Linked DNA regions of Homo sapiens: regions 2 and 3 are each reported to be linked to region 1. The links are microRNA targets in miRTarBase. Many come from high-throughput screens and were not tested one by one. Region 1 holds a microRNA gene; each other region holds the end of a gene's coding sequence.

The links. The annotated mature microRNA hsa-miR-3190-3p reads UGUGGAAGGUAGACGGCCAGAGA and lies in region 1 at 895-917, shown strand. An mRNA with a match to its seed (bases 2 to 7 or 8) in the 3' UTR can be bound and repressed. Matches are read on the target gene's strand: a 7mer-m8 pairs with bases 2 to 8, a 7mer-A1 pairs with bases 2 to 7 and ends in A, and an 8mer does both.
Region 2: the mRNA of OVOL1 is a reported target of hsa-miR-3190-3p. Seed matches in the 3' UTR shown: 7mer-A1 at 1,139-1,145.
Region 3: miRTarBase lists E2F2 as a target of hsa-miR-3190-3p. Seed matches in the 3' UTR shown: 8mer at 526-533.

The regions. Positions count from the first base shown.
Region 1 is chr19:47,226,094-47,229,093 of GRCh38, forward strand. MIR3190 (microRNA 3190) reads left to right here and starts at 849; the gene lies at 849-928. It overlaps BBC3 (BCL2 binding component 3), which reads right to left. Exons shown (of 4, transcript NM_014417.5): 2 at 2,065-2,353; 3 at 471-661. The coding sequence starts at 2,338. It overlaps MIR3191 (microRNA 3191), which reads right to left and starts at 926; the gene lies at 851-926. RefSeq lists silencers at 1-413, 1-74, 444-743, 1,964-2,403 and an enhancer at 989-1,931.
Region 2 is chr11:65,794,829-65,797,828 of GRCh38, forward strand. OVOL1 (ovo like transcriptional repressor 1) reads left to right here. Exons shown (of 4, transcript NM_004561.4): 4 at 218-2,386. The coding sequence ends at 513. The region is part of intron 4 of LOC124902693; the gene reads right to left. Among named protein-coding and RNA genes, the nearest start is that of OVOL1-AS1, 5.5 kb to the left of the region's middle. RefSeq lists enhancers at 912-1,412, 2,992-3,000.
Region 3 is chr1:23,507,056-23,510,055 of GRCh38, forward strand. E2F2 (E2F transcription factor 2) reads right to left here. Exons shown (of 7, transcript NM_004091.4): 7 at 1-3,000. The coding sequence ends at 2,825. Among named protein-coding and RNA genes, the nearest start is that of E2F2, 23 kb to the right of the region's middle.

The sequences.
Region 1 (3,000 bases):
CCCGCGGGGCGGGGCTGCGAGCCCACCCCTGCGGTCCCCGGCCCGCCCCGGCGCCCGGGAAACTGTGTGGCGCTGCGGGCCGCGCGAGAGGGACGGCAGGGGGCGGGCGCGGCGCGGCTGCTGACTCACCGGCTATAAATAGCCCGGGATATATGAGCCGCGCCGCCCAGCGCCGCCCTCAGTCCCCGCGGCCGCGGGCCACGGGCGCGCAGCTCCACTCCTCGGCGGCCTAGTCCCTGGCCCTGGCCCTGGCCCTGGCTCGGGCTCCGGCTATGCCAGCCGCGGCGCGGAGTCCTTGGGCGGCTCTGCGGGCGCGCGATTCCCCCCCACCCACTTACCCCCCACCTGCCTGTCCGCGGAGCGACCCAGCCGCGCAGGGCAGCAGCTGCCGCACATCTGGCGGGGGCCGCCTGCCGCCCCCTCCTCCGGCGGAAGTCCCACCTGCCGTCTACCCCACCCCCAGCACTCACCCGCCGCTCGTACTGTGCGTTGAGGTCGTCCGCCATCCGCCGCAGCTGGGCCCCGATCTCCCGGGCCCACTGTTCCTCCTCCCCGCGGACTCCCGGGGCCGCCTGGGTGGGACCGCCCGCCAGAGCCCCCGGGGCGCTGGGCACGGGCGACTCCAGGTGCTGCTCCGCCAGCGAGAGCGAGGGCTGAGGACCTTGGAGAGGCAGAGGGGCGCGGTCAGCACCCACCACCCCTCCAGGCCTCGAGGTGTCTCGGCCTGCTCCCCTCTTTCCCAGCCACTGCTCCCCGCCTCATTTCTAGTGATCCCATCGCTAGTGAGTCAATTTCTCAGCTTCTCCTCCACAGGCACCAGAAAGCAAGAAGTACCTGGGGACGCCGCTCTGGGGTCACCTGTCTGGCCAGCTACGTCCCCACGGCCCTTGTCAGTGTGGAAGGTAGACGGCCAGAGAGGTGACCCCGGGGGTGGTCAGGCTTAACGACCTCTATTTTCCAAAGGGGCCACATTTTGCCTTTTCCATGTGACAGGCAGGGAAACTGAGGCCCGCCCTTAGGGAGTATCCCAAGGTCACACAGGGATACAGTGACTGACCCCACCCAGATCACAAGCCTCAGGTCTCCTGCCCTCTCGTGTCCAACCACAGGGAAGCCACACCTCCGGATGTGGCAGAGGCCTAGAGACCAGAAGGCCAGAGACTGTGGCAGCTTCAGAGCGCGGGCCTGGGGGGCTGGGACGCGGGAGATGCCTTCCTGCCCCCCCCCCCCCCCCACTTCTGAGCGCCCTAGGAGGCTCCTGCCCTCCCGTCCCACCAGGTCCTGGCCTGAGGGTTCCCTAAGGCCTACAGCCAGGGCCTCAGTTTCCACATCTGTGACCTTGGCCTTGAAATCGGTGTCCCCTTCCAGGGCTTCCAGGAACTGAGTTAGGGAAGTTTTCTCTTTCCTCGCTCCCCTTGGGCTGCCGGGACAAGATGGGGGATGGGAAACCAGGACACACTTTCCCTAGAGCGCCTGCCGGCAGGGATGGGGCTCCACGGGCACCACAGGGTTAACAGCCCATCAGGCAGGGGACCTTTAACCCTTCCCTCCCCAAGACTCCCCCACCTCCCCGAGGGGACTTCCCAACACAATGGCCCCTCCCCCTCTCCTTCCTCCGCCGGGACTGCTGAGGACAGCCCCTGGCCAAAGAGATGCAAATAAAAGCAAAAGGCCTCTCGACCCCTCCCCAGAGGCCAGAGTTGACAGTCCTCCCGCTCGGCCCACTCTCCCTGCAACAGGAATCCTCCAGGGGGTCTAGAGGACCCAGACTGGGGGAGGGGAGCTGGGATGCAGCTGTTGCCCCAGGCCCGGAAGAGACAGTGGGCTGCAATTCGGGGACTGCAGTCAGATTCCAGGAGGGACTTCCCACTTGACCTCCCCCTCCACCCCCAGCCTCCGTCTTCCTGCTTCTTGCAACACAAAGACCACATTGGCCACACCCTCCCAGTGGCCCGGCTGGGCCCGCCACCTCCCCCCGTCCTCTCCCACTTCTCCAGTTCCTCCGAGTCTCCAGCCCTCTCTCTTCCCGGCTCCTATCACCCCGGGGGCGGGGCGGGCACTCACCGTCCGGGCGCGGGCCTCGGGGCCGGCTGCGGGGACCCCCAGGCCAGCGGGAACCCCCCAGGGCGGCGGTGACGGCGGGTGGGGCGGTGGGGGCGCAGAGGTAGGCAGCGGGCAGCAGGGTGGGGGCGGCGGGGGCGGCAGCCAGGCCGGGCTCGCAGAGGCCGCAGGACACTGCCGAGGGCACCAGGCGGCCGAGCGGGAAGGGGCGCGGGCCGTCGCGGGCCAGGCCCTCTACGGGCTCCGGGGAGCTGCCCTCCTGGCGTGCGCGGGCCATGGCGCTCCCTGGGGCCTGCGGGACACGGGAGGAGGAGCAGGTCAGCAGGGAAGTACCAGGGCCCACTGTACCTCCAGCCTACCCGGGGTTAGGACCCAGATGGAGAAGAGTGGAGGTGTGTGTGCATGCGGAGGGGGTGACGGCCCCACAGAGACACGCCCAGCCGGGGGATGACACCACCGGGTCCTGGCTGGCCTGGAGAGCCTCCCGTGCATACGGTGATGGGCACACAGGAGGGACAGGGGGCACAGGACGGCTCTCACAGCAAGGACAGGGCTCACACAGGACGGATGGAGGGGTCTAGCAGGTGTGTGTATGAGGGCTGTGACAGTCCCACAACACAAACTCACTCCACTTGGGACTCACAGCATGGGCTGGTGGGGACAACTTTCCCAACACAGCGACGGGCACACAGGGAGGGCAGTGAGGCACAGCGAGGCCCCCACAGCACACACACAAGGACTCACACGGGACTGGCCAGCCTGACCGCCCACCCCACCTCCCACTTGCACACAAACACTGAGATGGCCCCAGTCTCGGACATCACTACTCAGTACACACAATACACACACACCCCCGACCAAAGCAGGAGCATCCAGACAGACCATCACAAGCACTCTACATACTGCGCACACTGGCTGGCACAATCCATCCCCACACAT
Region 2 (3,000 bases), not on the chromosome of region 1:
CCTGGGAGGGCATCCCGGAGCTCAGGGCCAAAGTCCTCCTGAGCTCATCAGTTAGGAGTTTTGATTTGAGAGTCACTCGGGAAGTTGGTGTTGGACAGGCCTCCGTCCATCCCTTGGCCCTAGAGGCAGGGGTCCTGTCCTTTCTGTGTCTGGAAGCAGCCGACAGCCTCTGAAGTCCCTGCCAGGTCTCTGATGCTGGCCCCTGTCCTCCCCACAGGCGTGCGGCCCTACAAGTGCAGCCTGTGTGACAAGGCCTTCACGCAGCGCTGCTCTCTGGAGTCTCACCTCAAGAAGATCCATGGTGTGCAGCAGAAGTACGCGTACAAGGAGCGGCGGGCCAAGCTGTACGTGTGTGAGGAGTGCGGCTGCACATCTGAGAGCCAGGAGGGCCACGTCCTGCACCTGAAGGAGCACCACCCTGACAGCCCGCTGCTGCGCAAGACCTCCAAGAAGGTGGCCGTGGCACTACAGAACACTGTCACTTCCCTGCTGCAGGGCAGCCCCCACCTGTGAGTGGCTCGAGCCCTGGGGGTGCTCCTGGAAGCCCCAAGAGCATCCAGGATTGCCTCCCAGCTGCCTGGCCAGCCCACCCTCCTGCAACCTCTCACCCGAACACCAGTGATCAGGACTGGAGCCCCCGTGCCTTGGTCTCCCCCCTGGGCACACGTGCTCACTCAGGCCCAGCAATGACCTCTGCTCATTTTTGCATTTTTGACTTATGGGCCGAGGCTGTTCTGAGCCTGGGAAGATGTACCTATGTCAAGAGAAGGGATGAGGCCAAGGCTGCCTTCAATTAGAAGCAGCCGCCCACAGAGACAGGCACTGTGTGCCTGGCAGCAGGACTTCCTACCCAGAGGAGGTTCGAGCTAGGATCCCACTGCCCCCGCCTCTCAGCACAGGGCAGGGGCTGCAGGTCCCCAGTGGACATCAGAGTCAAAAGCACTGGCAAAGGGTACCCCTGCAAACAACTGTGGTGGGGGCTGGCAGCAGACCCCCCACCTGGCAGGGCTTCTAATGCTCAGGGTTCTGGAGGGCTCTGTCCTTCCGGCAAGGAGAGGCACACATGTGTGCCCAGCCGTGTGTGTGCGTGTGCTTGTGTGTGTGCACTGCTGTGTGTGTGTGCACGCACAGGAAGCCTTTCCACATATCACCTCATTTCTAAGAAATAAACTACAAGGTGCCAAGAAGGTTTTATTTCCTTTTATTTTTTAAAGATGACAAATGTACAGATGTTAATATATTTTTGGTGCCAATGGCGATGTTTTTAAGAGTGGGATGGAGCTGGCTTTTCTCCATTCCCGTGCGCTTCTATTTATCCTGGACATTTCAAACCTCCTCTGTGCCTTGGCTCTGGGCGGGGGCTGCCCCAACCCACCCCCGTTCTTTGTACGTGCTGAGACAGCCACTAGAAGATCTTCCTCCAGCGGCGCCCTGGACGGCTGCTCCTGCGAACAGCCCATGGCATCTTCTGCTCTTCCCTCCCGGCTCTGCCCTGCACATCCTGTTGAGCCAAGCCCCAGTGACCCGGAGAGCTGGCCTGATGCTGAGAGTGTGTCCTCCTGGGGCTTTAGGGGGCAGGAAGGTGGGACGAATGACGATGCCCATCCACTACCTGAAGCACTAGGACACTCTTGCAGGGCCAGGCTGGAAGACCGGCCCTTTTCTTGGTTGAGTCAAAAGCCTTAGCACAGTGGCAAAAAATGGGACAGAATGATGACCAGCACCTCAGAAACTTCCAGAGGGAGGAGAGGATTTGATGGCTACCAAATTGTATCTGTTGCCTTTTTTCTGACTTTTTCACCTGACCAGGCTGGGGTTTGGAGTGGCTGTGGGGAGACCCGTCCTGGCTGGCTGGCTGGCTCCCTTGCTCCCTTGCTGCAGCTGGGAAAGGGGTTCTGGGTGTAAAGAGGTGTGCGTCTTGTGGGCCAAAGGGAAAAACAGGCAGGGGTCAGAGCCAGCCTGCCAGAGGCAAATGCAAAAGAGGTCCCCAGAACACAGCCAGCTGGGCAGCCCCTTAAAGCCAAACCCCACCTGAAGCAGAACCACTTTGGCCTCCCCTGCCCAAAATGGGTAGTGTCTACACGTCCCCGGGCTCAGGCTCAGGCCCAGCCCTGGGCTGACCTGAGAGGAAGGCTCCTTCCTGGACTGCCCTCTGAAATGTGTATAGATTGATTCTAAAATCTCTTGTTTCACTTGACTTTAGAGTGTCTGGGACGCTGCTGTATTCTGAAAGTCACATAGCACACAGTAATGTTATCTGGAAGCTCTGTTTTTGTTTACATTTCTGTATCCCTGGGTTGACTGCCAATCCGAGGCCGTCATGAAGCTCTGTGTTGTCTGTTTTATTTTATAACCTTCCTCTCAACTATTAAAATTAGAGATCTAATGTTTTCTGTGTTTCCGATGTTTTTGTCTTATGGGCCCCTTTTTCCCCATGCAGAGAAGTAATGGAAACAATTGACACATTCTTATCCAAACCCTTCCTCGTTACGGTCACTGGGGGGCCCTGGTCAAGACAAGAGCCTGGCCCAGATAGCTTAAGTGACCTGCCCAGGGCCTCAGACAGTCACTGCCTGCTGAGTCCTGGTTTAGCATGCTCTGCTCTCAGCAGCGGCAGCAGCGGGGCGCCCTGAGCTCCATCCATCAGCCTCATACTACCCTGCATCTACCTCTGCCAGGCCGAGACCGCCAGGCTTTATGTAGTCACCCGGGGATCCAGTCTTGGCCTCCCAGGACCCTCCCAGGGTTAGACCACAGAAGGAGCCACAGTCCCAAAAAGAGGGTGCAAAGCTCACATCACTTCTGGTCAGACACTTAGGGACGGCCACACTCTGTGTCCACACACCTAGGGACAGCCATATGCTGTGTCCATGCACCTAGGGATGGCCACACCTGTGCCCACGCACCTAGGGACAGCCACACTCTGCATCCAGGCACCTAGGGACAGCCACACTCTGTGTCCACGCACCTAGGGACGGCCACACCTTGTCCACGCACCGA
Region 3 (3,000 bases), not on the chromosome of region 1:
TGGATGATTTCCTGGAGCCCCAAGCTTTAGAAGTCCCTGGGGACACGAGTGATTTTTTTAGGGGGGCTGCTGGTGGGGCTGGGAAGTTTCCTGGCAGAAATTATTTACCTCAGAAAGACACTGGCTTTTCTCTTACCCTCGTTTTAAAGTCTACCTGGTCCCTAAAGAAAATACCACTCAGGCTGGGCCTGGTGGCTCGTGCCTGTCATCTCAACACTTTGGGAGGCCGAGGTGGTGGATCACTTGAGGTCAGGAGTTCAAGACCAGCCTGACTAACATGGCAAAACCCCGTCTCGACCAAAAATACAAAATTAGCCGGGCGTGGTGGTGCATGTCTATAGTCCCAGCTACTCTGGAGGCTGAGGCAGAAGAATCGCTTGAACCTGGGAGGCAGAGGTTGCAGTGAGCCGAGATCAGGCCACTGCACTCCAGCCTGGGCAACAGAGCGAGACTCCATCTCAAAAAAAAAAAAAAAGAAGAAAAAAAGAAAAGAAAATACCACTCAAAATGTGTCCTGAAGCACTCTGTGGAAGTCGGGAGGCTTCAAGTGTCACTGGCAAGACGGGGGCATGAGCTTGTGTCCTGCACTGAATCTGAGGCTTAGCCTGGGAGGTCTAGCCCCTTGGCCAGGCAAGGTGTGAAAGGGACAGTAGAGGGGGACAGAGGCAGCTGCTGAGCACACGGGGCACAAGCCTGAAGGCAGCTCCCCTGACCAGCCATATGGAGAGGCCTCTAGGGCATGAGCTTACATTCCAGACTTCAGTATTAAACTCATTCCCAATGGGTCCTGCAGGCCCCTTCTTCCTTTTCTCTGATGTAATTCTTGGGGAAAGCTCCAGAGCCCAAGGAATGGGAGTCAAACACCTCTGACTTCAGAGATGGCACATGGCTAAATGGCAGCCCAGTGGAGACCTCAGAGCAGCCCACTCACCACAAACGAGATCCTACACAGGGTCCCTGAGCATGCTGGACTTTAAGACGGGCGTCTGATAAGACCCTTGTGAGTATTTGGGTAGGAGACCAAAAGCATTTCTGCAAAGGGTACACAATTAGCCCTGCTTATAGAGTGGGGGCAGCTGTGACCCGCTGACCACTCCTGGGAGGGGGCTAACTTGGGGGCCCAGGAATTTGAGCAAATGATGAGGCACAATTGTCCCCAGCTGGGCATTAGATCACATTGGGCCCCACCCTGAAATAATCCCTCGTCTCAAACTTCAGACATCAGTCAGTCAGCTCAGGAGCCATCCAACAAAACCAACTTCATATTTTAAACCAGCTTAATGCTACAAACTTTTCTAAAAAGTGCTGTCCAGCTGAGCCTCTGAGAAAACCTAGCTCCCTGAGGGGTGGATGGCAGGCCTCTCAGACCAACCCCTGAGCCTCTCTCCAGAAGTCATAGCCTTGGTTCAGCCCAGAGCACCCACATCCCAGGGTGGGTGGGGGAGAAGAGCAGCTGAGCTGAAGGGACAATGTGGGATGATCAAGCCTCTGGGGGAACAGGCTGAAGCCAAAAGACCCCCTCAGGACCCCAGGCCTGCAGAGGTAACATGAGTTCCTCTCCCCATTAGCTGTGAAGGCCTGGTCTGCCATGAAGACCTCTCTCTGTCACCCCTTCAGTATACCTGGGAAAAAAGGAGTGAACAAGTCACCAAGCCCCAGTCACCTCTGTCCTTGGGGTCTGAGTGAGCTCTGAGGGGTGGAGTCCTTAATGAACCATCCCCTTCAATAACATGGTGAAAAAATTCCTCCCAGGGAAGCAGAGAATGATGCCAGTGCCACATGGGGGGCAGAGGGGATGCTTTTGGCAGTTTTTTGTTTTAATCTGACCCTTCTTTACAGTGGGGCTGCCTCTGCCTACCAAGTCCTTGGTGCAAAATGGCTCCTGGACCAGCGCAAGGCAGAAACTCTGAGGAAAAGTGCCCGCCACAGCCATGACAGCTGCCCCCATGCTCCTGTCTGTTTTCCACGGGAGCTTGTCTCTGCTGGACCATTTTTACATCTCAAGGGGAGAGGTAAGGACTTCCTCAGGAAAGGGGTCTCCTGAGCAGGTGGCTCCTGTTTCCACAGGAGCCTCAGTGCTACCTGCCCTAGGATGGCTCCCTGGGACCATCTCTGGGACAGAGGCGACCAGGAAGCCAAGACCGGCAGCTCAGCTGGAGATGTGAGGCCAAGAACAGGGGAAGAGGCAAAAGGGCCCACAGCTGCCGTTTACTAGAACCATGAGGCCTAAGTGCAATTAGCATTCTAGCAGACTGGACAGCCCCTCAGAGTCCCAGCCCCCACCACAGTGGGGAAACCAAGGATGTAGCCTGGGCCCCTCCCTTGGAAACCCAGACCTGCCCTGGAACATGGACAGTGATGGGCCTGTCTGCAGAGGTCTCACTAAAAACTAGAACAACCTCCCTGCTAAAACTCAGGGAGGACAAACAAACAACTCAACCTGAAATAAATACAAAGGCATTATGTGCTTCTTGGTACGTCGAGGGTCCTAATTACCCCTCAAAAGGAGGTAGCAGGGCCTTTCCCTGGACTTGGCCACCTCACCTGCAGCCTTCTTGTGAGAGGTCAGAAGTCAGAAGACTGGATGGGCCTCCCTAGGCCCAGCTTCCATTAGGAAGGTGAGGACCACCCCTTATCCACTCCTCACCCGTACCATTCATATCTCCCCACACAGCTTCTGCCGGCTGGGGCAGGAAAGGCGAGGAGACCCCATGCCCTGAGGGCAGCACCTAGTGTCCAATGTCCCTGTGCAGGCAGAGGGGCTGTCAGCCTGTCTGTGAGGAGGTAGAGTCGGGGGCAGGCTGCTGGGGGCAGGCAGGGCCACTCAATTAATCAACAGGTCCCCAAGGTCGTAGGAGTCGAAGAGATCGCTGATGCCCTCACCCGCCTCCAAGCCCCACAGGTAGTCGTCCTGGTCCAAGGATGGGGAGAAGCTGATCAGAGGGGAGCTGCACGCCAGGGTCGGGGACAGGAACTGGTCCTCAGTCTGCTGCAGGAGTG